Linked DNA regions of Homo sapiens: all the other regions are reported to be linked to region 1. Evidence: microRNA targets listed by miRTarBase, many of them from high-throughput screens and not tested one by one. Region 1 holds a microRNA gene; each other region holds the end of a gene's coding sequence.
Evidence for each region. The annotated mature microRNA hsa-miR-5191 reads AGGAUAGGAAGAAUGAAGUGCU and lies in region 1 at 1,499-1,520, shown strand. An mRNA with a match to its seed (bases 2 to 7 or 8) in the 3' UTR can be bound and repressed. Matches are read on the target gene's strand: a 7mer-m8 pairs with bases 2 to 8, a 7mer-A1 pairs with bases 2 to 7 and ends in A, and an 8mer does both.

Region 2: the mRNA of BICRAL is a reported target of hsa-miR-5191. Seed matches in the 3' UTR shown: 7mer-m8 at 3,022-3,028.
Region 3: the mRNA of KLHL18 is a reported target of hsa-miR-5191. Seed matches in the 3' UTR shown: 7mer-m8 at 2,454-2,460.
Region 4: the mRNA of IRF2 is a reported target of hsa-miR-5191. Seed matches in the 3' UTR shown: 7mer-m8 at 3,943-3,949.
Region 5: the mRNA of STYX is a reported target of hsa-miR-5191. Seed matches in the 3' UTR shown: 7mer-A1 at 1,962-1,968.

Annotation. Positions count from the first base shown.
Region 1 is chr1:201,718,081-201,723,185 of GRCh38, forward strand. MIR5191 (microRNA 5191) reads left to right here and starts at 1,428; the gene lies at 1,428-1,547. NAV1 (neuron navigator 1) reads left to right here. Exons shown (of 34, transcript NM_001389617.1): 7 at 310-675. The region is part of intron 2 of IPO9-AS1 (IPO9 antisense RNA 1); the gene reads right to left. LOC124904483 (a long non-coding RNA gene) reads right to left here. Exons shown (of 2, transcript XR_007066790.1): 2 at 3,975-5,105. RefSeq lists an enhancer at 1,544-2,190.
Region 2 is chr6:42,864,682-42,869,786 of GRCh38, forward strand. It overlaps BICRAL (BICRA like chromatin remodeling complex associated protein), which reads left to right. Exons shown (of 13, transcript NM_001393499.1): 13 at 1-3,875. The coding sequence ends at 765. Among named protein-coding and RNA genes, the nearest start is that of RPL7L1, 12 kb to the right of the region's middle.
Region 3 is chr3:47,343,066-47,348,170 of GRCh38, reverse strand. It overlaps KLHL18 (kelch like family member 18), which reads right to left. Exons shown (of 10, transcript NM_025010.5): 10 at 1,355-4,616. The coding sequence ends at 4,230. Among named protein-coding and RNA genes, the nearest start is that of PTPN23, 35 kb to the left of the region's middle.
Region 4 is chr4:184,384,301-184,389,405 of GRCh38, forward strand. IRF2 (interferon regulatory factor 2) reads right to left here. Exons shown (of 9, transcript NM_002199.4): 9 at 3,429-4,766. The coding sequence ends at 4,458. Among named protein-coding and RNA genes, the nearest start is that of LINC02362, 4.5 kb to the left of the region's middle. RefSeq lists enhancers at 1-554, 2,073-2,831, 4,837-5,105.
Region 5 is chr14:52,770,067-52,775,171 of GRCh38, reverse strand. STYX (serine/threonine/tyrosine interacting protein) reads right to left here. Exons shown (of 11, transcript NM_145251.4): 11 at 183-4,139. The coding sequence ends at 4,066. Among named protein-coding and RNA genes, the nearest start is that of GNPNAT1, 19 kb to the left of the region's middle.

The DNA.
Region 1 (5,105 bases):
GGCTCCTTTACTAACCAATACCAAAAAAGAATTCAAACCTAGGTCATATTACACAATCTAGGGTCTTAACAGTATACAGGATTTCTTCCCTAGCCACTTAATTAAGATCATTTCCTTTGTCAAACAGATAACGTATCACAAAGGTAACACACAACCAGAGGCCTCATGGAGGAGGTGGAGCTTGGGCAGGTGGGGAGGAGGTGACAGGGCCTGTGGGTGGAGGGGAGGCATTGCTGGGGTGCATGTGAGGGGACAGGGCACACGGCGGCTGTGCCAAGGACTAAGTAGTGCCTTCTGCTCTCCACCCAGCTCCCTGGAGATGACCTGCTACGACAGCGATGATGCCAACCCACGCAGCGTGTCCAGCCTCTCCAACCGCTCGTCCCCTCTGTCATGGCGCTATGGCCAGTCCAGTCCGCGGCTGCAGGCTGGTGACGCGCCCTCTGTGGGTGGGAGCTGCCGCTCGGAGGGGACGCCCGCCTGGTACATGCACGGCGAACGGGCCCACTACTCCCACACCATGCCCATGCGCAGCCCCAGCAAGCTCAGCCATATCTCCCGCCTGGAGCTGGTCGAATCCCTGGACTCGGATGAGGTGGACCTCAAGTCCGGCTACATGAGCGACAGTGACCTCATGGGCAAGACCATGACGGAGGATGATGACATCACTACCGGGTAAGCGCAGGGGCTTCTTGGATGGCGGGGGAGGATGGTGGAAAGACCACTGGGATGCGACGCCTTAAAAGTGGAGTGGAACCCAAAACGGGTTTTGGTTTGCTGTGCTGCTATGAAAGTACACAAAAGTGTGCTGTGTACACTTTGTGATTGCCTCTGAAATTCGATGTGGTTTATTCTAGACTTGGGTGTGGTGTAGGCAGGGCCTACATCCAAGGAGCTGATTGGTCAATGAAGGCGCCTCCCTCTCATTGGTCTCTGTGGCTGTCATTCTGTCACCCTCCTCCCTGGCTCTTTGCCCTCAATAAACTGGCTCAAAGAGCCTTGGAAAAGCATTTTATTCCCAGCTCTTATGCGAACTCTGTGTAGACCCTGGACAACTAAATCTGCTTTCCCATTTGCAAAAAAAAAAAAAACCAAAAAGGTTATTAACATCGTATCTGTCTACCTAAGAAGAGAAAATGAGAGCTTGTGGGTGAAATCGCTAGTCAAACAGTGAGTAGCAGCAGTAGCTCCACTTCCTTTGCCAGGGGTTCGTAACCCCTCAGTTCCCTATCCGACCCCTGTGGTCCTCAGTGTCTGCTCCTTGGGTTTCTTCCTGTGCAAACCTTCTACCAATCATGCAACTTCCTAATCCCTACCCAGCGTGTCAAATCCTTCTTTCCTGCCTTTTGCCCTGCAGGGACCCTCATCTTCTTATATTTTTCTGCCTTAATTGACAGAGTTGTGCCTATGCCTTCCAACCTTGGAAGAGTTGGCCAGGACCCCAAGCCCCCAGCACTTCATTCTTGCTGTCCTCTCCTGGTCTGGGAGGATAGAAGAGAGGATAGGAAGAATGAAGTGCTGGGCGCTTAGGGGGATCCTGGCCAACTCTTCCAAGCCCAGAGACAGGAGAGAGGCAGTGGTTCTGGAAGCTTCTCTGGAGCACCTCTTAGCCTACTGCCACTTTCACTCTCCCTTCTTGGTTTGCTGGTGCCCTCCTCCGCCAAGGGGCCATACAAGTAGCAGCAGCATCCCTTCCCTTCCTTCTCAGGGACTTAATATCTTACTGCCAGGGCCTGCCTCTCCCCAATAAAAATCCCAGACTTCAAGGGAGTGGAAAGTAGCCTCTCCTCGGAAAAGACGAGAGCCAAGCTCCAGGCCATCCACTGTTCCCCACCCCCATCTCCACCCCTGCAGAGAACTTGGAGGGATCTGGTTAGGGCTTGTCCAGCTGATGAGGCTGCTCTGGAGCAAAACAACTGACGCATGAATGGAGTTGTTTACTGCCTGTTAAATCCCAGGGGCCAGCCCAACCTCGCGCTCACGCTCAGATCCACCAGCCTGGAGCTGGGACCAGAGAAAAGCCATGCAGTGCACAGATCCTGAGCTCCTTCTGTGGTCAGAGGCCTGTGCTGGGCAGGAAGGAGAGCCAAGGTGTGTGAGGAGCTGCTCCACACAGCCTCTGCCCTAGGAAGCTGCCAGGGACTGCCTGAGGAAGTGTCAGGTCACTGCCCTCCTCTGAGAATCCCAGGAGGGTGCAGAGGGTGGCACAAGCCCTGCGGGGCTGAGTCTTTAGAAAGTCCCCCATGTGTTAGAAGAACCATAGCCCTAGACCCTAGGGAGCTTCCAGACAGGGGAAGTGATAGGACCCCTGCCCAGCACAGCTCCCAGATTGATGGAGGTGACGGGGCCCCTGCCCAGCACAGCTCCCAAACTGATGGAAACGAGATCCCTCTGAGAGCCCTTCACCCCACCAACCCACCTGATGGCCATGGCAGAAAATACCCCAAGTGTTGCAAGGTACAGGAGCCCTGCTTGGAGACGTCGCAGTCTGAGGAAGGTGGCAGGACTTCCGGCTCTTAACTAGCTGTATGAGCTTGAGCAAACTGGTTCACCTCCCCAGGCTTTCTTTCATTTGTCTATCTGTCAAATGCAGATAACAGTAGAACTTATCTCAGGGTTCTGATGAGGATTCAATGGGTTAATATATGTAAAGTACTTAGAATAATTCCTGGCTCATTGTAAATGCTCACTAAATGATAGCTATTATTTTTGTTGCTATATTATTTTTGTTGTTATTAGAGTCCCAGACTGATGGAGAGACATGATTCTTACCGTCAGGGGTGTGTAGTCTGACCAGAGTCCCACTTACTCAGCATCAGCAGCAAAGACAGATCTAGTAGCAGCTGGTCAATCCCAGGGGCATAGATAATAGGCTGTGGGGGCATGGAATGCAGGGGGAAAGGGTAGGAAAGACCCCCTTTATCCCCCCTCTAACACCCTTGCTTTATCCTCCTTCCTCTGGACAGGATGTGTGTTCCCGAATCCATTTTTTAAAAATTAGAGTTCACCGAGACTAGCATGAATAAGAACTTGCCTTCCCTGCACAGCCCCCAGCTGTAAGCCTTGGGAAGCCTGGAGTTTGCATGGGGAACACAGAATCAATTGTTGGCATGGCAATATCCATAAAGTGGACCTTCCTGTAAACTGTGATGCTAGTTTACAAGATCATTTCACATGCATTTTTTATGGTCAACCTTCAGTTAGCAGTAACCCTTAACACGAGTTTGTTAACTTCCCTGCTGGGACTGTAAACATGGCCATCTGAGAAGTCAGAGTTGAAGGGAATCAACTTATAATCCCCAGTAATTTAATGTAAACAGTCACTCCTCGATTATGGGTTTTCATGGTTAAGTGTTGTTGTTGTTTTAATTAGTAACAGGGCAACCTGGATTCCAGCGACTCTTTAAGTGAACATGCAAACCTGAGCTGTCGTTGCTCAGCCTCCTGTTGGTCTTCTCATCCCCACTGTGGTTTCCATCTAGATGTTATAATTTAGAAAATGTCCTATTTCTTAAAAAACTGTTTTTCTAGTCATTAAAGGGGTAGGACTGTTCCCTGTAGGGATAGCTTCAGCGCTTCCCTCCACACTGCGACACCCCTGCCCACCCATCAGCCTCGGCCCACTGCAATTTACTTTCCCACCTCCCAAGAGCTCCCAGCACTGGGCCAGCAGAAAAGCTGATCTTTCCCCACTGGGTGACATAATCGGCTCCAAGCTATCCGAGTGAGCCATAAAAGATGACAGTAATTCTGGCGCTTTCTCCACACTCTGTTTATCTGCGGGGGGATCATCCCTTTGACGGCTCTTCCCAAGCCCCTGTTCAGTCTCAAGTCAGCTCTCCCTACTCCCTCCAGTGACCAGGCCCCTTTCAGGTCATTAGTCAGCAAACCAAAGAAGGCAAATTCTTCAAACTGAAGTCAGCAAACTAGAAGGAAGAAAGTGACTCTGATGCTGCTACCAGAATAATCATACATGTTTTTTAAAAAGGATTTATTTTTAAAAATTGTGGTTATATATATATAACATAAAATTTACCATTTTATGTTAACCATTTTAAAGTGTACAGTTTAGTGGCATTCAGTACATTCACACTGCTGTGTAACCATCATCACGTCCATCTCCAGAATTCTGTCTTCTCCCCAAAGAGAAACTGTACCCATTAAACAGTAGCTACCCTTTCCTCCTCCCTTCAGCTCCTGGGAGCCACCATTCTACTTTTCGTCTCTATGAATTTGACTACTCTAGGTAACCCATATAAGTGGAATCATACAGTCTTTGTTGTTGTTGTTGTTTAATGACTGGCTTATTTACTTAGCATAATGTCATCAGGGAGCATTTATGTTGTAGCGTTAGAATTTCATTCTTTTTTCAGGTTGAACTCTATTCTGTTGTAGGTATACGCCACATTTTGTTTACCCATTCATCTGTTCATGGGTTGTTACCACCTTTTGGCTATTGTGAAGAATGTTGCTCTGAAAATTAGTGTCCAAATATTATTCAAGTCCCTGCTTTCGGTTCTTTTTGGGTATATACCTGGAAATGGAATTGCTGTATCATATGGTAATTCTATGTGTTTTTTGTTTGTTTGTTTGTTTGTTTGTTTTGAGGAACCACCATACCGTTTTCCACAATGGCTGCACCATTTGATATTTCTACCAGCAATGAATGAGGGTTCTAATTTCTCCGAATTCTCCCCAACATTTACTATTTTCTGTTTTGTTTGTATTTATAGTAGCCATCCTGGCCAGGCGCGGTGGCTCACACCTGTAATCCCAGCACTTTGGGAGGCTGGGTTGGGTAGATCACTTGAGGTCAGGAGTTGGAGACCAGTCCGGCCAACTGGTGTGGGGTGAAACCCCATCTCTACCAAAACTACAAAAACTAGCTGGCGTGGTGGTGCGTGCCTGTAATACCAGCTATTCGGGAGGCTGACACAGGAGAATTGCTTTAACCCAGGAGGCGGAGGTTGCAGAGAGTCGAGATTGCACCACTGCACTCCAGCCTGGGCGACAGAGCGAGACTCCAACTCAAAAAAAGAAAAAACCCATCCTGATGGAGGCGAAGTGGTTATCTCATTGTGGTTTTGATTTCTGTAGTGATTAGT
Region 2 (5,105 bases), not on the chromosome of region 1:
TGTTCCTTCAAACTTGATAAAGCTGCTCATGAGACACAGTTTGGCCGGAGTGACCAGCATGGCAGTAAAGCAAGCAGCTCTCTGCAACCGCCAGCCAAGGCCCAAGGCAGAGACCGAGCCAAAACCGGTGTGACGGAACCCATGAATCATGACCAGTTTCATCTAGTGCCTAATCACATCGTGGTCTCTGCAGAAGGAAACATTTCTAAAAAAACAGAATGCCTTGGCAGAGCACTGAAATTTGACAAAGTGGGCTTAGTGCAGTACCAGAGCACGTCTGAAGAGAAGGCCAGCCGGAGAGAGCCTCTGAAGGCCAGTCAGTGCTCTCCCGGCCCTGAGGGGCACCGGAAAACCTCATCCAGATCGGATCATGGTACTGAGAGCAAACTGTCAAGCATCCTAGCAGATTCGCACTTGGAGATGACGTGTAACAATTCCTTCCAGGACAAAAGTCTGAGGAATTCTCCAAAGAATGAAGTTTTACACACAGACATCATGAAAGGGTCAGGCGAACCCCAGCCAGATCTCCAGCTGACAAAGAGCTTGGAAACCACATTTAAGAACATCTTGGAACTCAAAAAGGCGGGACGGCAGCCCCAGAGTGACCCCACGGTTAGCGGCTCTGTTGAGTTAGATTTCCCCAACTTTTCTCCTATGGCTTCACAGGAAAACTGCCTGGAAAAGTTCATCCCGGACCACAGTGAAGGTGTTGTAGAAACTGACTCCATTTTAGAAGCAGCTGTAAATAGTATCCTAGAGTGTTAATAGCAGCAGTCCTCCCCCTACCCCGCCCCGAGACCCCACCCCGAGACCCCACCCCGGACCAGTTACATTCGTTCCTGGCAAAAGCAAATGGAAATGGTCTCCTGTCTCCAGCCTGCTTGATCTTTCATCACAGGTTATTCTTTCTAATCTCAATCCTGTTCTTTGTTTAAGAGCAATACTTGTCGTGATTACAGGGAGATCCTTTAGTAAAATTAATCCTTGGCAGAAAGCAGTCTGATAGGCCCCACTCATTTCAAGTGTTATGAAAGTGCTTATAGGCATTTTGTTTATTTGTTTTGTTTTTTAAAAACACTGTAACTCAATGAGACCACAGTATACTTGGCCCTTGGTAAAATTTTGACAATCATAAGTCATTTGAAAAGAACAGACTTACTAAAATCAAACGAGACGGATAGAAGCTACTTTTTAAAGAATATCCCACTGCATCTGCAAATTTAGTTTTGGGTTTTTTTATTATTATTATTTTGAGTTTTTTTGTGTGTGTTTTGTTGTTATTGTTGAGGGGAAGACCACATGGTTCTTCCCCCTCAGCCATCTTTGAGCAGTAAATTGCTGGCTGTGCTGCCAGGGACCCGCAGCCCTGGTGGAAAAGCCAGTAGCACATACGCAGGGCATTGCAGGGCTTCCCTATTGATGGTTCAAGTGCTTTTCTGATGCTTCCGGAGCAAAACCTCATGCTTTTAGGCATATCTATGTTGAATTTCACCTAGGGAATGTTCTGTTCTTAGTTACAGCAGCAAAATTTGAAATAATTTCACCAGGCTAAATAAAGGAAAATGGAAACCAGTTAAGAGGCACAGTGTACAGAGGAGGCCGGGATAGAGCCATGAGGGTTATAATATTAATATGTATATATGTAAAAGCATATATATGTTAACTATTGAGAAAAAACAAGTTTTGCATTTTATAATTGGATATAGTCAACATATAATGTATGTTTTTGTTTGTTGCTGGATTTTGTTTCATTTAACCTCTCTTTGCACCCTCTCCCACAACAAATACCAAGCATCAAAAGCACTTTCATTTGAAAATTATTATGTTGTAATTTTTCAGTTTAAACTTTAAGGAGACTCTGGCCTTGTTTATGCTTCTTGTCTGAGAACAGTAGTGACCCCTGGCAGCAATTCATTACCAAAACACAGACAAACCAAAGGTAACCAGCTAGCCCACCACTGAAAGGAAAGATCTGAGACATGGGATTCCCATTTGAGAGCCAAAGGATATGCCCTGTCATGGTTTCTGTTTGGCCTGTGTTCATATTAGTGAGCATGGCTTACTGCTTTATTTATTTTTATTTCTTGTCAGGGAGTATTCTCCGTTTTCCTTTCTCGTATACCTGCCCCAGGTTATCCCATTTCTGTTGTTACCTTTATTCTTAATGTCATTGTAACCATCACTTATCTCCTCTCATTGGGAAAGCTACATGATAGTATTTTTATGCACTCTTCTCCCACACATACACACACGTGCATGTATCTGAGCTGCTCGGATCCAGAGGTCATTTTTGTTACAGTGTGTGCACACTCACTCTCCTTCTTAGTGTGCATACTCTCTCATTTATTCTGTTTATCTCCCTGGCTCTGGAGGTGCAGCCACTGGTCTTCACTTTAATGTGTTGCCAGAATCTGCTTCTGGCTGTCGCCAACATGGGGATGACCCCCATTGTCATCATGTTGGGCATTTCTTTTCCAGATTGGCCTGTGATGGAAAGGAAGGCTTCTAATTAGAAAACACAGCAACAGAAGACCTATACCCCGGTGCCCCTGTGTCCCACTACACACAGAAAACCCTGTGAGATGGCCAGTCTTCATAATAGCAACGTACCTTCACCCCAGCCACATGCCCCAGCCAATACAAATTGGAAAATCTGGCCCATTTTAGGGTTACCATTTTTTCCTTATTTGTGCCAATGTCCAAGTTGCAGATTTCCCCTTTTTCCTGTATTGTAACATATTAGATAAGTTGGTGTCGCCAGTTGGTACTTTCTGTTTGGGTAGTCCTAGGGTAACACCCTGCCCTAAACTCCATGATTTCATAGGCTTTTCTTCCCTTGGGGCTCATGCTCCCCTAATTCCTAGCAAGATGATCCTTCCTAATCAAATTCTTCTCATTGCAGAACTTTATCCCTGGAAGCCTTCATGTGGGCTGCTAGTGAGTTACATTAATTACTGCAAATCAGTGGAATTCTCAAGAGACAAGATAAGCTTCATGTACATTTGTCACCTCTCTTTCTTCCCTATCCTGCCCTGCTGTCCCAATCCTAGCTTTTCTATATACCATCCTAAAGGGTTTTTAAGCCCTAACACTTGTCTAGCAAATGGAGAGCCTAATTTACCAAAATGAAACTTGTAAATTTTTGTGTCATTGTATGTAAGTTTACTTTTTATGGAGGAAGGATTCTAGATAATGACAAATGAAGATTATGACATGTATTTCACTCCTGTGATTAGGTTCTACGCACATGGGTCATAACTCGCATGTCGAGCCCCCTCTAGTGAAGGGTAGGAGAGCTCAGCCTCGGATGGCCAACATTCAGTTGTTCAGGTTCATTCGTCAAAGTTAAGTTTTAGAACTATTTGTACTCAGTAACAAAAATCATTTTCTTTTTTTTTTTTTTTTTCTGTTGTGGAAAAGCGTGAATTTGTTATTAAGCATTTGATTTTCTGTGTCCTTAAGTACTTCCTGAAGATGAAGCAAAATTTTAATCTGGCAATTATGAAAAAGAAATATTTTAGCTCTGAAGGATTTAGTAGATTCTGTTAGATTAGGGAGGCCTTACAGACTGACTTTACTTAAAGAGGACGCGTCACTCGCTGTCAGTGTGGTGTGGGCTTTATTTGCTTAAATACCTTCATTTGTATAGTACGTCTCACTTGAAATTGCTTTGTATACATTTTGTAAAAATATTTATAAAATGTTTTGTAAAAAAAAAAAAACTATAACAAATTGCAGTTTATTTTGTTATGTTGGATAAATACTGTTAAAAGAAACCAGTCAGTAACTATATTGTTAATCCATGGTTAGGAAATGTTTAGTTGGAGATTACAAATTGAAACAACCATTGCAATACAGCCAAAGATTTGGGAAAATGTGCAACTGTGATTGTCTTGATTTTGCAAATAGGAATGGCTACTTTTCCCAGAAGAAAAGGGTAAGTGTTCAATGGGAATTCTATTTTAATAGATTTACCAATACCAAAATCAATTTACCCCAGTCAGGGAAGGGATAGGATTTTAATTGATTGGCCTTTCCAAACAGTTACAAATTAATGAAGCTGGTCAGTGAGGAGGTTTGGTCCTGTACACCTTTGGCCTCCATCCCTACTCCTGCCACATAGGTCCTTAGCTATGGAAGGAAAAGTGGGGGTCATGTGAAAAGTCAGGTAAGTGAGCCTCACTCTGCAGGAGATTTTATTTTATTTTATTTTATTTTGAGGTGGAGTCTTGCTCTGTCCCCCAGGCTAGAGTGCAGTGGCACACAATCTCCGCTGACTGCAAGCTCCACCTCCCAGGTTCACGCCATTCTCCTGCCTCAGCCTCCCTAGCAGCTGGGACCACAGGCGCCCGCCACTGCGCCTAGCTAATTTTTTGTATTTTTAGTAGAGACGATGGTCTCGATCTCCTGACCTTGTGATCCACCTGCCTCGGCCTCCCAAAGTGCTGGGATTACAGGCGTGAGCCACTGTGCCCGGCCTAGGAGATTTTCTTCAGTTATGTTTATTTTGTTTCTGCAAGGACAAGGAAAAAGCTAAGTGATAAATGATTTTACATAAGAGATATTCCAGAATTAACGTTTCTCTTTGGATTCAACATATTGGACCAAATTTTGTATTAAAAAATAACTCTATAACCTTATGTGTAAAATCAGCCCCATGAGGCCCTTTTGAATTCCTGCCCTCACAAGTGTTTTTCCACCCAAATTGTTAGGGAAGCTTCTAGAGGTGAAATGTATTTCTGGGAACAAATTGTTCTTTAGGGCCTAGAATTTACACTTGTACTCATTTATGGTTTAATTAGATTCTCCCCTGTGCCCTAAGAGCAGTAGAAAATCAAGATTCAGCAGTAATCAGTACATAAATAGAAAGTCATTTTCTAAAAAGATTAAAAGGCAACAAAGAAAGTCATTTTCAAATAACTAACAGAATGATATGAAGGGATCTATCCACTGATGTCATGTATAGTGTTACCCTAATGTCAAGTTTCTCTTCTTGCTAAGGATAAATGTGTGTCCAGAATGACATTTTTGTCCCTCTTCAGGCCATTTACAATGGGAGTGCCCCAGGAATGAAGAGTTAGAAGGAAGGATCAGCCGGGTGTGTT
Region 3 (5,105 bases), not on the chromosome of region 1:
AATAAAAAGCAGCAGTGCTGGACTTTGGGGTGAAATGGAGTGGGCTCTGCTGTTGGTCATGAGGGGGAAAGGAGTCCAAATAACAAAAACAAAGAAAGAAAGAAAAAAGAAATGGAAAGTCAAGCAGATGAATCCAGTTTGACTTAGCAGTCCACTCTTCACCTATGGGGCTCTTTGGCTCTGGTCAAGGGGGCATAGATTACATGGAAAGGGCTGCTACTACTTTACAAGCAACAGGCCTTTCTCCCAGAGGGCAGAGTTCCCAGATAGTCTGGCTATCTCTTTCAGCATGAAGGCACCTGCTTCTTCACTCTTCCCCTTGCTGCCCAGTCTGCTTTTCCAAGGTCTATGACTGTTGGGAGGAATGCTGCTCCCTTCACAGGTGGAAGACACTGCTGTCCTTAGGCAGACTGGACTGTGAGTGTGGAGATCTGGTCTCAATTTCTCACAATGCCACTGGTTAGCTGGAGTCAGGTCAATTACTTGGCCATTCTGAGGCAGTTTCCTTATGCTAAAATGTTACCTGCTCCGTGGGGATTACTGAGGACCATGTGAGATTCAACTGATAAGAGTGTTTATATGTAAGACATGTCCTGGTGGGGTGTGTGTGGGAGTGATATGCCTTCCAAAAACTTAAAAAAATTAAGTTGCCATCCAGGAGTCCAATGGACAAGATTGATCACAAGCTGACTTTTGGAAAAGTGTGACTGAAGAGTTTCCCAACAGGCAAAACCACACTAACCACAGTGTAATCTTGGAAGAGCAGATCTGGAATGCGGCTGTATTTGGGGAAGTGAAACTGAAGATGGGAGTATAGTTCTCACACTGAAGAGCATGCAAATCACCAAGGAAACTTGCTCACGCCAGAATGCTGAGCTGCACCCCAGCCCTAGGGAACCTGTCTCTAGAGAGGGACTTAGGAACGGATCTGTGGTTTAAACATTTTCCAGTGACTTTTATGTGCACCAAAGTTAAAGCACCTCTCGCCTAGAGCATAAAAAAGGAGCTGGAGATGCTGATTCCAGGCAGTCAACAGGCAGCCACATTCCACTGGGAAACTCTGGAGTTTTAGGGCAGTGAATGGAGAAAAGGGGAAATCCGAGAGTAGGGGCGATCAGGACAGGCACCAATATGCAGTCCCAAAGTGCAAATGAAGTCTTTGCATATTTTTCACCAGAAGTGACTCTCATAAAATAAATCTCTCCAAAGACTACTTTTGCTGTACATCTGGCTTTTCCCTTATATTCACAGAAATATTCCCATTTTGTCCAATATATTTTTTTCAGTGAATCACAATTAAAAAACAAACATGTACTTCTAATATCTGAGAAATAAACCAAGAAAGGACAAGAGCTATTAGGAGTGTTCTCTTTATTTCTCTTTGGTTTCTTAACACAAAAGACATGCATTCTATAAATAAAAGGAACTAAGATTTTCTGGGAAACCATAAATTGGGAGGAATTCCCACAGTCACACCTCTGTGGTCAAGAGGATGGTCTTCAGCCCCCATCTGGCTGTAATCTCTGATGAAATCCAGAAGAGAAGGCCCGTGTGTTATCCAAGAAGGTGAAACACTCAAGGACAGTGAATGCCACAGTCCTCTGCTCAGAGCTGGGCTAGGCCCCAAGGCCCACTGAGTACAATGTCTACCCTATCTCCTTGTTACATCCTTTTTACAATATCCTTGGGTGATGCTTCTTTTCATGGGGCTATTGGAAAGGCTCCAACACCAAAGAGCCAGACCAGCCATTTACGAATAGCCATTCACCATCGGACTGAGGAACCTACTGGGAGAGTGTGAATATGTTGGTGTTTCCTGACTTGTGCTCAGAGCCCAGATCAAAACACTGGCTTGATCTTACTTTGAAACATCGACCTCAGGTGCAGCAGTGTAAATTCTACACCAGGAGGTGGGATTGGACTCAGGAAGTCCACTACAAGAGCAGCAGGCCATGGTAGAAAATGATCTGCCATACCCAGTGGCAAAATCTGGGCCAGTATCCTAAGGACCCACTCAGTAGCCCACAGACCGATTCTTAATACCTTCACAATCCAGGCTTGTTGGTGCTACTTCAAATTCACAAAAGAAAGGGGCTTATAATAAGACAAGCACTGATACACTCCTAACAGGAAATGCACACCCCACCCACCTTCCGAGTCTACCCCTACAGGCAAACCAGGAAGGAGGGAGAAATGCTGGAGCCCTACCACGAGCCCAGGTTAAACGACATCCGATATCAGATTGTTGAGACGTTAAAAATAAAAATATCATTTTCAAGTGCTTGTAGCAGAGGCCTAGCTCCTAAGTTGTAGGTAACAAAGGTACTTCCCTCTGAATACATGGCGATTGCACACACTGGTAAACCTGACGGTCCTGGGGTGGGGGAGACACCCCAGGCTCCACATTGTGCCTTTCTGAACAGGCTTCCAGGCCACCCCAGGCAGGCAGCAAAGGATAGGAAACCAAGCAGGTGGAGACTGGAGCCCTAAGACTCAGTCTTGGGTTACAGGAATTGAATCTTCTTTTAGTCTCTACTGGAAGAATTTTAGAAAACCAATTTTGGCAGCAGCAGTTGAAGGACAGCCCCACTGCCCAGTGCACTGGCAAGAGAAAATGTCCTCCTCTTTGAGTCCCGCTGTGCTACATTAGGTCCTATCCAGGGAGGAGGAAGCAATATGAAATCTTTCCAAAAGGTAAAGGTCATTTGCCAAGATTAGAGGAAGAAATATAAAATCTGTTCTTTGCAGCAGCAAGAGATTCTTTCGGCCTTTAGTTCTTTATGTCATAAAAGCCAGCTGTGCTTGAATGTAAAGGTCCACCTTGCTGGTCAGTCTGCCCAGGGCTGGAGGGAGGCCAGACTCTTGGGATTGGCGAGTGGATGGAGGAGCAGTGGAATGGCAGAGCAGACAAGGTTACCAGACCAAGCCCGCCCACAGCTGGTAGAAGGAAGCCCTGGTTAGGTTCTAGAGGTGCATATGGTCAACGTGCCCCAGAAGCATCACAATGAGGGAAATCATCCAAGAACGAGATTGATGGGCAAGTGAGAATCTGGCCAGACCTGCTGTTTCCTGCTGGTCAAAAAAGGAAGCAATGTTAGTGAGAGTGGGGAATCTGAATGAGCGCCATGGTGGCAGTAGGAGGTAATCACAGGGGCGCCTGGAGCCCCCAGCCACAGCTAGGAGCCCCCACCAAGAAGAGTGGCAGTAATTCAGCAGATAGCCTAACTCTCTACGCCTATGATTTTAAAAGTCCTCTGATGGTGGGTGAGAAGACAAACCCCATGAGCACCTTACTACAGGCCCAGTCAAGAGTGCACTGATTCCACACACACTGGGGCTCAGAGGGAACCCCCAGCTCAATGCGAGGCCTCAGGACCCTGGGATCCGAATGTGGGGTGGATACCGCCCTTCTCCAGTTAGACGATTTTCCATTTAAACATAGATTTGCCGTTAGTGTCTTTTATGCTTTTTTCTTCTTGCAAAATTTGTTCACATAAAAAAATTATTTTTCTTTCCAGTTTCTTTCAAGTGTTTCTTTGTTTAAATTTCCTTCAGTTTCTTTCAAGTATCTTTTTTTCCCTTCTGTTCTCCTGGACAGATCAAAAGGCCTCACTGAAATCCCAAAATTAGACATGGGGAAAACTTCTCTTCTCCCTGCTTACCCAGCAATGAGGACAGAATCCTTGGTGCCCCACTGTGGAAGAAGGAATGTGCCTGTGTGCAGCCTTCCACTGCTGTGGCCACACCATCTCAGGCAGGGAGAACGCTTGGGTCTGTCCTTTCGTCCCCAGCTACATCCCAGTTTCCAGCAGGCTTGGACACTGCAGCCTCCCCATGGCAAATTGGCCAGACTCGGCTGGAGAGCAAGCAGGCGATGGGGAGCATCAGATGGAAGGCCTTCTGTGAACAGCTGGCCCACAGAGAGGCGGTGGGTAGGAGCTGGGCCTGGATGGAGCCTGTGTTCATGTGGACCAGAAAACAGTTCCATGTCACCAGCTGCAGGATCCAGAGGAGCTTGTGTTCCATGCTGTGCATCTTGATGACCCAAGCCTGAAGGTCACAAGGGTGGCACAGTGGGGGAGGGCTTAAGCACCTGGAAAAACTGTACCTCCGGCGAGCTCACGTTTCGCCATCTCTTCTGGTCCACTGCCTCTCCTGAGGGACTGTTCCTGGAAGGAAGCGCCTATGTCTGTACCAGATCCCTGCCCCACCACATCCCATCCTCTGCCTTAGATGGTGAGGAGAGGGATGCAGCCCACACCGACCCCTCCCTCATGGCACGCCATGGGGGCCATGAATGTCCAGCAGTCTGTCTCTGGGTCATACATCTCCACTGAGCTTAGGTTTGACTGTCCGTCGTAGCCCCCAACAGCGTAGAGGCGCCCACAGCTGGCCACCAGGGAGACCCGGCTCCTGCGCGTGTGCATGGGGACAATCAGGCACCACTGGTCTGCCACAGAGCTGTACATCTCGGCAATGCTGAGGAAGCCAGAGCCATCGTAGCCCCCGCAGACAAACATCTTGCTCCCCAGGGAGGCGGCTCCGTGCCGGCAGCGCTTGTTGAGCATGCCAGCTGCAGGGTGCCAGGTGGCTGTGTGGTGGTTGTAGTGTTCCACCTGCAGTGGGGAGAGAGGCACAGGTACAGGACAGTCAGAGGCAAAGCTCAGTCCATGGAGTGACCGTGCAGGGCACAGCAGCCCCCCATGATGTCAAACTCCTGTGGGAGGTATGGGGACAAGGAGCTCTCCCAGTATTCCCTCTGCTGCAGGCCTGCTCTTTGGTGTATGGGGACAGGGAGAGGTCACCTCACCTAACCCTTTCTGTTTGCATCTAAGGAAACAAAAAGGATGTGCCCAAGGATGCAATGCTAGGTAGTGACAGAACCTGTATGAGAGCTGGGTCTCCTGTAATCTCCAGGGCTCTCCACTGCAGCACTGACTGACTATGGAATGACTAGTAAATGGCTGTTGAGCCTTTTTTACAGAATAAATACAATTTCAAACAAATTATCCAAAAGAATACAACTGTTTGCAAATTTACACTTGGTCTATAACTGAACTTACTTTGGGCAGGAATCTCACAAGTTCTATGTAGTGTTCAACAGA
Region 4 (5,105 bases), not on the chromosome of region 1:
CTCCAGAGCAGGCTGTTTTCAGACTATGTGAACTCTGAAATGTGCTACATCTTGATCCTTCCACGGCACAACCCGGGTTCTTGGATAGACTTAACATTTTTGCTAAAACCAGCTATTAGGCCTGACCACTTCCTTCCTTCCAGGCACTATTTTCGGAAGCAGAGACACAGTGCCTCTGCACCTGTTGTTCGTGTGGCCACAGAAGCAAACCTCTACAAAACCCTCATTTGTCTGCACAGCAGGACCAGTGATGCCCAAGCCCAGACAGGGAATGGGGGTGGTACCAGTGTCCCATGGGGCCAGTGGGGACCCAGAGGCCAGACAGCCTCACGAAAAAGCATCTCCCCCTGACTCCTGCCAGCTTCCTGCATCTCCTGACCTGAAGCTTCGCACGGCCGGGCTCTCCTCTCCAGGCCTGTGGTTGGACACATTCCTAAGGGGGTGAAGCCAACAGTCCCAGCCCTGTTCTTTTGACACCGGGATGGTGGGGCTCTGGGGAGGAGGAGATCCCAGGGATGACAGCCTAGTAGTACCCAACCTTGATTCACATGCTGGGGTGCAAATGAGTGAGAAGCAGCCTCAAGAAGCTGATGGTGTCACCCAACTGCCCTTGGGAGGGGTCCACTGCAGCCTGGGGACAGAGGGAGGTCAGAGTCACGTCCCACCTGCTCTGATAACTCTGGCCCCAGGCACGTCATTGTACTGTGGGATGGAGTTTCAGGGTGAGGTAGGCGGCTGAACGGCACCATGTAAAAACCAGTTTGTGCCTCCAAACCAAACTGGCACTCAGACATTAGCTGTTTGACCCCTGAATGCCAATGAACTCATCTTGGCTACCTGTGTGTAAACCTTTCCCTAGCTTTTGTCTTTTATCAGGAGAAATCTGGCAGAATAGTGGGGGTTCTTTTTTTTTTAACCTTTTATCTGGGCTTATTTGTCCAAAACTACAATAGCAGGGGGCCTTTAAAGCCTAATGAACGCAGGTTACAGAGTGGCCTCAAGCAGAAGGAACGTCTCATGTTCCATCTCTCTGAATTAGGGGCAGGAGGCCAGCTGGGGCTTACCATCTTTCCATTCACATGCAAAGCACTTCCAAAAGCACAAGTTTGAAAACTCAGACTCCTGAAATCAAATCACTCATCTCCTTCACTTCTAAAATCTCTGTCTCAGTAGTGGTTACATGATAGTACGGTACACTTGGGATTTGGGTGGGGAAAGGGTATTGTTTTAGGGTTTTGATGTCCAAAGAATTTGTATTCCATAGCCATGTGTATTTCTTTTTTACAAATCCTTTGAAATAGACTAAATACCACCTTTGGCAGTGGTTCATCAAAACACGGACAAAACAGTACGGTTGAGGGTGGATTTATTTAGATGTGCAAATGGCATTCCAGAAGCCCCTTTCATCGAGGTGTGTGGATGTGCTGGGTGCTTGCAACCTCAAGGCTGGGCAGAAATACATGTCCCTGAATTCACAGTTCACAGCTGTACAGTGAGCCCATTATCAAGGGAGTGACCCAGGTACTGGCTGCAGAGAATGGAAACTATTGTTCCAAAGGCAGTTACACTGAACTTGAACTTGCTATTAAACGCATACGTGCACACACACACCCAAGCCCATCATCAAAGCCTATCAGCTCACACAAATACCAACCAGAAGCATGCGTCCCTGGCACTTCCTCTAAGTGACGACAAGGTCTGAGGCTTGGGTCCAGGAGCTGCCCCAATGCCTTTGTTTTCCTTCCCCATGTCAACCCCAGGCATCCTGAGACTAGCTTGTTTTCCTGCGTTGCTGGCAAGTATCACTTAGAAACAATACAGGCTTTCTCAGAAGGATTTTAAACATGATTCTGTTTTTCATGGCCTTATTGGCAATGGAGTATCATCTCTGGAACTTAAATGGTGCATTTCCAAGTCCTGAATTTTCTTCCACTTGATGGGCCTTGGGAAGTCTAGTTACGCTACAGAAGCAAGGGGAGGGCAGCAGGAATGGCATTCGGGACCGAGATGCAGGAAGAAGCCCTGAGTCTGTGTTGGGAAGAAGGAAGGGGGAGGAGACCTGAGCTACCTTAAACCCTTTGATAACCAGGCCACGTGACTCAGGGCAACCTTCCGTTGCTGTTTTGTTAATTTATTTAAAATAGGATGACTCAGTAAAACATTTTAGATGTAAGTCTCAAAGAACTGAACTTCTCCATTCAGGACCTGGGGGAAGAGCAGGTCTTAACTGAAAAGTCGGGTGCCAAGGAGCCAGGGAGCATCTGTTTCTTCCTGATAACTCCCCTTCCACTGAGAAACTGAGACAGTCAACGAAAGTGCTCCTTCCAGAAGCAGCCCCGCCTCTGTGTGTGGCATTTCAACTACAACGCATCCGCCAGGAAAATGCTCCAGTTGATTTCCATTCAGGGCTGGATAACTTTATGACCGCTAATTATATCTGCAGCCACACATGGAGATAGGCATAAAAATAGCCTTTTGTCCTTTCATTAAAGGAACCTCTTCAAATATTAACTTAGCAATCTCCTCCACAACCCCCCAGAGGTAGTAGGCGGGTAGCAAAGTTTTCATATTCTGATTTTACAGAGTAAGATACTGGGGATGCAGGGGAGGCTGGTGCTGTGGCTTTCTCCAGGCCAAGACTATACCTTCAAACACCAAGTGGCTGATAAAGACTGGTGTTCTTGAAGTCACCCCTTTTATTCCACAAGACAGACCCCAAGTTTTGAGGGCACGGTCTATGTGTAAGGCCTCGGGTCCTAGAAAGACGAGTGACGGACATGGTGTTAGAGCCCAATACATATTTCCTGTTGTGGAAAATGTCTTATCCATGCACCCCTCTAAGTGACATAAACACAAGACGTTTGTCGTACGTGTAAGCCTAAGGATGAAAACAGGAAAGACACAGAGTGGGGTGAACCTTGCTCACAGCAGAGAAGGAAACCAGTGGCGTGGCTAAAATACTCCCCCTCCACAGGGAATGCTCCCAACACAGAGGAAGACAGACATTTGAGATAACGGATATGCTTACAAGAAAAAAGACCCCCTTCATAGCACAGAGAATTGGGCTCAACTTGTGCCCAACTTGTGCCCTTGCCTCTTAGTGCCACTATGAGCCAAGTAAAGGCATCTTCACATTCAGTCTTCATTTCCTCCACATGAAATGGAGATGAATGCCTATTCTACAGCACAAGTGTGATGAATGAAGACGGGAAGTCATGCAAAACGCTCAGCACGGGCCCCTGCTCAGGCGAGCACTCAAGAGAAGAAGTCAACTGAAGCCTCACAGTAAGAACCTCCACGGTTTCTTGTGGTCAACAAGGGAAAACATTTTGGTCCCCAAAAAGAAACAATCCTTTGTCAGTCCTATTCCGTGATTATGCTCTTTTAAAGCAGACACAGACAAAGCCAGGAGTGATGCCCCTTAAAAATTTAACTATATATCATATTCATTTATTATCAATCCACAGGAAAATCTGATTGCTACATGAGCTCATAAAAGCTTTTTTCACCTTTACAAAATTAAAAAAAAAAATGTGCCACAAGGATGTAATAACAACTGCTGATAAACAAGAAAAGGAATCTTAAAATTATAAATTTGCTGTAGAAAAGATAAAAAACAATTATATTTTATTTAGAATTTTACCTTGAATAAAATATTCCCCTGTATAAAAAATAAAAAAGCTTGCTCTGGTTAGAATTAGAGTATTTTTGTCTTCAAATCTGGGAATTTGCATAATATTTCCATGATACTTTTTCCTTTGTACCGCGTGGCATTCAAGCATAGCAGATTAGAAGGATTTTTTTTAAAGCAGTCTGAAAATGGGACATCTGTAGAGAAATTCATTTCCTTCTTCTCCTCCGGATGTGGAATGGAAGCTTTGAGGGAAGGAAAAGTAGGAAAAGAGCGGGATGGGATGGGATGGGATGGGATGGGATGGGATGGGATAGGAAGAGAGGCTGGGGAATGGGCAGAGAAGGGGGTGCTGAGTGTGCTGTGAGATAGAGCAAGATCACAAGAAGGCCTATCTGTAAGTGCTTTAAGATAAGGTGCAGAAGCAGACTGCAATGTCGCTAGTGCTGCCTATGTACATATTCACAAGAATAAAAAATTCCAGCTAGTTCACATTATCTCGTCCGTTCTGAGGCATCCACTCCACCTTGCTGGCCTTGACCGCAGGCAATGCAGCACCTCCACTGCCCTTGTTGGTCCTTGAACTTGAGTGAGTAGCCCTGGGAGATCCAGCAGGCTCTAGAAACACACGTCTACCAATGGGCTGGAGTCCTGAGTTAAAGAGAAGCTCCAGTACTGGAGTTGGACACAGCAATCAATGTTCTATTGTCAAGGCTTTTTCCCTTAGATTTGTCTAAAATAGGTGTCAGAGAGAAAAAAATAAAATACAAACAAACAACAAAACAAAGCCAAGAAGCCCCAACAACCACCGCGGAGAGTCAGAGGCTTAACAGCTCTTGACGCGGGCCTGGGTGATATCCGATGTTTTCTTGATGACGCTGGCCCGGGTCTCCCGGTCTGGCCGACTGCTGCTGGATGCTGGGGTCATGGAGGAAGAAAGGGGGAGGTCTTGAAAAGGGGGCCAGGAGCTGTTGTAAGGCACCGGATTGCTCTCCTCTTTGATGGTGACCTGGAGGTCCGGTTTGTTGGAAGTGACGAAGGACGCCATGCCGGGCAGCAGGTAGGAGCCTCGAGTCCCCATGTTGCTGAGGTACTGTTTGCCTTCAATATTCCTCTTCCGCCAGTGTGGCCGCCCCTTTCAAGAAAGTAATTAAGATATGTATTTCCTTCTCCTTCTATTGGATGGCTTTTTAAAAATGCATCACTGGCCAGGTGTGGTGGCTCATGCCTGTAATCCCAGCACTTTGGGAGGCTGAGGCTGGAGGATCACTTAACCTCAGGAGTTTGAGACCAGCCTGGGCAATGTAGCGAGTCCTCATCTCTACAAAACGTAAGAATTAGCTAGGCATGGTGGTGCACACCTTTAGCCCCAGCAACTCGGGAGGCTGAGGCGGGAGGATCACTGGAGCGCAGTAAGTCAAGGCCTCAGTCAGCTATGATTGCGCCACTGCACTCCAGCCAGGGCAACAGAATG
Region 5 (5,105 bases), not on the chromosome of region 1:
ATAATTTTGTGTGTGTGTGTAACCACAGTGTTTTAGAGTATACTCTTAAGTGCTTCTCAACATTCAATGTTCATCCACTCTTCTTAACTCAGAGTAAATTTGGGTTACTTTTACCCAGCAGATAACAATCTAAGTAAAGAAGTTTTGAGGTATAAGCAGCAGTATGAATGAGCTTTTCAATATTTTGGAGGTATAATGGCACAGCAGTTTTAATACAACCACCAATCTTCACAAAATAATTTTAATACTTTGTGCCTGGGCTAGCAGCATCTTGCACTGTGACATTCCTATACAGACATAAGCATTTTATCCAAGTACAAATGTTAAAAGCAGAGTAACTTAAGCAATTGTGTATACAAAGGTATACAGACACTGTAGGTTATTTTTCTTCTTGAATCATTTTTGCTGCATAGTAAATTGCAATTACATGTCAGTATAATGTTACTGATCTATAGAATACACTTTGAACTGTGAGGTATGGCAGCTCCCTATGAGAGAGAGCTAACATGTAAACCTGAATATTTTGAGTGATTTTTGTTTTAGCTGCCACAGATGGGAAAGACAAAAAAAAAAAAAAAAATTCCAGCATTCAAAGACCCTAGAGACTTACTTTTCTAATCAATTAAAAAAAAAGGTCTTTCAGTACTTCTCATCTATTTTCTAGCATTCCCTTATCGGAGCACTGTTGAACAAAGAAAGAAAGAAAATACTGAGGTGAAGCTATGTTTGTTATGGGATTATGGATTAAATCAGTTATTTAAAAAAAAAAAAATCCGCCAGGTAACTGCTCATTTACTTTACATCAAGTTGAGATCTTGATACATATATATATATATCTCAACTTTATAATTCAAGATTGCAGTTAAATATTTCTAATTCACTTGAATTACCATATTAATAAGACAATTAGAAACCTTATATTTTCTTAATACAGACATGCTTAACATTTTCTGACATTACTTCTAAACTCAGATGAAGCATAAACTCTCCCCAAAACTGCTCTAAAAGTTAAGTGGTTGAGTTGGTAGCAAAAGCTATCATGGTTTAACATTTCCACCACAGAGTAGATACAAGTAAAGGTCACTGCAGTTTAAACATCTAACAGGTAAGAAATTAACATGAACCAACTAACTGAAATTAGAATACTGCCATTCCATGTTTGAATATTTTCAATACTCAAGTTTCATATTTTCAAAATGGACAGTAATACAGTTTCCCTATGTTTTGATACAATTTCACTATAAATTATGGGCCCAGATTACACTTTTAATGTTGGAATTGGGTGGTCACTCATACATTATTTAAATACTCTAGAAGATAAATCATGATCAGTTAAATTTATCATAGTTAACTATCACAAAACATCAGTGGTAATAAAAGAATCACAGAAATGGAATCAAATAGAATAAAGAATAGGAAGAGCTACCAGAACTACTTAAACATTAGGTGGACAGACATGCAAGAAAAAACAAACCTGTAATGTTCTTATATGAAATAATAAACTTCATGGTTTGTCTACATTAATATTGTACTCAGCCAGGCGCAGTGGCTCACGCCTGTAATCCCAGCACTTTGGGAGGCCGAGGTGGGTGGATCACTTGAGGTCAGGAGTTTGAGACCAGCCTGGCCAACATGGTGAAACCCCATCTCTACTAAAACTACAAAAATTAGCCAGGCATGGTGGCATGTGCCTCTAACCCCAGCTACTTGGGAGGCTGAGGCAGGAAAATCACTTGAACCCAGGAGGTGGAGGTTGCAGTGAGCCAAGATTGTGCCACTGTACTCCAGCCTGGGTGACATTAGAGACTCTGTCTCAAAAAAAAAAAAAAATCTATCTATCTATATATATATATATACACACAGAGTACTCAAGATGATGACAGTCCCTTTTCCCAGTGTTTGTGAGAGACTGTAATATACAGTACTGGGCAGGCACTTCAGTGACAACATAAAAATTACAGTGGATAGAAAATGTGGAAAATTACCAGCTACAAATTATCAATAACAAAATCTGTTCTTTTGGCCAGACTACTAGAGAGGATATATGTATATTTATGAAACAAGTTTTTAAAACCTAAACTTACTATTATGAAGATTCTTTTAAGCAGAGTTTCTGCTAAATGAAGCATCATAGATTATTATTACACTGTAAGAGATCTTTGCTGACCTGCCCAATAGTGATCTATATACAGGAAAGCTGTGTTATCTGGAACTTTTATCAACTGGAATTTTAGAAAACCCAATGCGAATCTTGACTCCACTAGACCACTGTACATCAAAAGACCTAATCACAAAGCAGAATACTGGACGACAACGAGATTAACAATATGCTGTTTTCACAGTGGTAAGATAAGAGAAGGGAAGGGGAGGGAAATCAGAAGAGAAATATCACCTGGGTCAATAGGAATTAACTCTTAATTAACAATTTTAATTAATCTCCACTCTCCCACTATGCTGGGTAAGAAAGCTTTTACTGTATTATCACATCATAGAGAGGAAAGCAAAGCAAGTAACTTGGTGTAATAGGTTACTTTGCATAGTACCTCTTGGTACCAAGGGAACATACAGAAATCATTCCCATTAGTAAAGCACCTCAAGAGAGGATTGAGAAAAGTTAGATACAAAGGAGTTTTGTTTGTGCTACCCTAAAGTCATCAACTATAAAAAGTTAAAAACACTCCTCTCTTCCCTTACATACTTAAAATAGCAAAAATGTTTTCTTAGAACTTTTATACACACAAACTAAAACATAGCCAAAAATCCATAAAGTGACTTTACTAAAGCAAATTATGGGGCAGATCTGGACTAACTGAATGTCAAGAATGGATTAAAATGCTAATTTAAAATACACTAGTCTCCCACAAATCACCTTCCCCAAAGAAAAGCTTCTGTTTGAGCCGGAACAATCTCACAGAATCATTAAGACAACATAAAAAGAAAGAGTAAACATTCTATATTCCAAATAATTTACTAATATTTCTTCCAGCCTCGTACTTTCAGTTTAAACTAATTTATGGTTTAAAAAGAAAGGAAATTACACAAAAATGTTAAGAACTTTTCAGTGTTCTACATACTAATTTAGAGGCCATGAGGATTTAATTATTTTTTTTAAATGATGCAAGGCACTTTTCTTTTTTGGGGCTTCATTTAGAAAAAAATAATGCTACATTGGTTTATTAGATTCTATTTAGAATCATTTTGGACAAAGGAAAAAAGGGCTGGACAACTCTGAAAAGAACAAATACAACGTTTGGCTTTTACTGCCAAAAAATGCAAAAAGGAAAGTCACTCGAAAATCTAACACTATCCTTGTGTTTAAGCACTTGGTACTATAAATCAAAACGTTTTCCTTTTATCATGGAAACTGTAGTTTTTAAAATATAGAAAAATTAGGAAAGTAATAAGAAAGGAAGCAATAATTAGATCAAGTTAAAGTAAGGACAGCTAATTAGGATCATGATTTAAAGATTAATAATGGAAGAAGTATAAAAAATAAAATGGTAATTAAGCTATTAAGTTATACTAAAAAAGAAATGTGGCAGATTCCTGCATTTTGTTAATGTTTCTGTAAGAGGCTCCATCATAAAATTGAACTGTAAAATTATGTTAAAAATGTAATATATAGAACAGAAAAATGAATTTTTAGCAAACCTTAGCAAATTTTGTTATAAATTACCCAAACTTTATAAACAATCCCCCCATACTTGCATTTTGTTTAAAGTAATAACTTTATATCATACAAATAAATTTCAAGTATGAAAAGTGCATTATTGCAATAATACCTCTTTGCAAGTCCAAAATTCTTGGTTTATAATAAAACTTGTAAAGCATGTGTGTGTGCGCGCGCATGTGTTTTTAAAAAAAGGAGTAAAACCATCAGTGTCATCTATTGCAGAAGTCCAACATCTTAAAATGTTGCTCAACAAGTTGCAGAGAAGTATGTCTGGAAGCAACATGTAATTGAAAAAAAAACTACTTATGTTTTTACCATTTTACATTATAATTTTCTCTTGTATTTTCTCCTTCCCAAATAGAAATTCACACTCTATGATGTTGCTCTTCAAGTCAGCCATTCTGTGCAGTCGCCACTTGCATGGTTCCAAAATCATCCTCTTCTTCATGTGTTCTCTTCAAACTGCCTAAAAGTTATTGCATGAAGATTAAAAGGGCACTAAAATAAATTCATGTTAAAAGGTTACAGCAAGTAAAATTTTGTTATTAAGTGATCATGTATACACTATGAAAATTCCACAACTGATATAGCAAAATTTAGTAAATTCCTTTGTGATAAATTACCTAAATATTATAACTTTTTAATCTTCATGACAGGATATATTTTCCTTCTCAAGTATTATGTCTTAGGTATTGCATATAAAATAAATAATTTTTGAAATAGTGTGAAAATAGACCTTTTCAAGAGATAATACATAAATGTTTAGTTATCAAGTTAATTGTTTTTTAGGCACCATAAACATGTGACTTAGGGCATAAAATTTAGGAAATTAATCTTGTATTTGTATAATTTTTTGTAGATAATCTTTTTGCTTTCACAGAGGCTGTTATGAAGAGCAGCTGAAAATATTTTTCCACTCAAGCTATCGAAGTCTAGGTTGGGAGAAAGGAAGGCATGTAGCATATAAAGAGATTTTCTTTTATCTATTCTTCATACCAGCATCTGCTAGTACAGAAATCTCCCACATAGAATCAAAGCTATCTCTGTATCCCCAAAAGTTATAATCAAGAAATTAGACTCTCAATGGAGGAAAACTTTAGGGAACAGTTAAACCAGCAGAGGGTCTGCTGTGTTTTTTGCCTAACAATGGCATGACCTTAAACTTATGCCCTACAGGACTGTTATATCATGGTAATAATAATGTTAATTCAGAGGGCATATTCTAATTGAAGAATGTTTCACTATAAAATTCATAAAGATAAAAATATAGTATCAATACAATTGAATGAGATAAAATATCCTAGCCCTCAGGCTAAACCCAGATACTGTGATTAAGTTTCAGATGAAGTGCTGTGCTTCTATGGGAACTCCAAATGACTAGGGGTTAAAGGAAGAGTGCATTAATCATCATGTCTTCCTGAGGAGATGACAT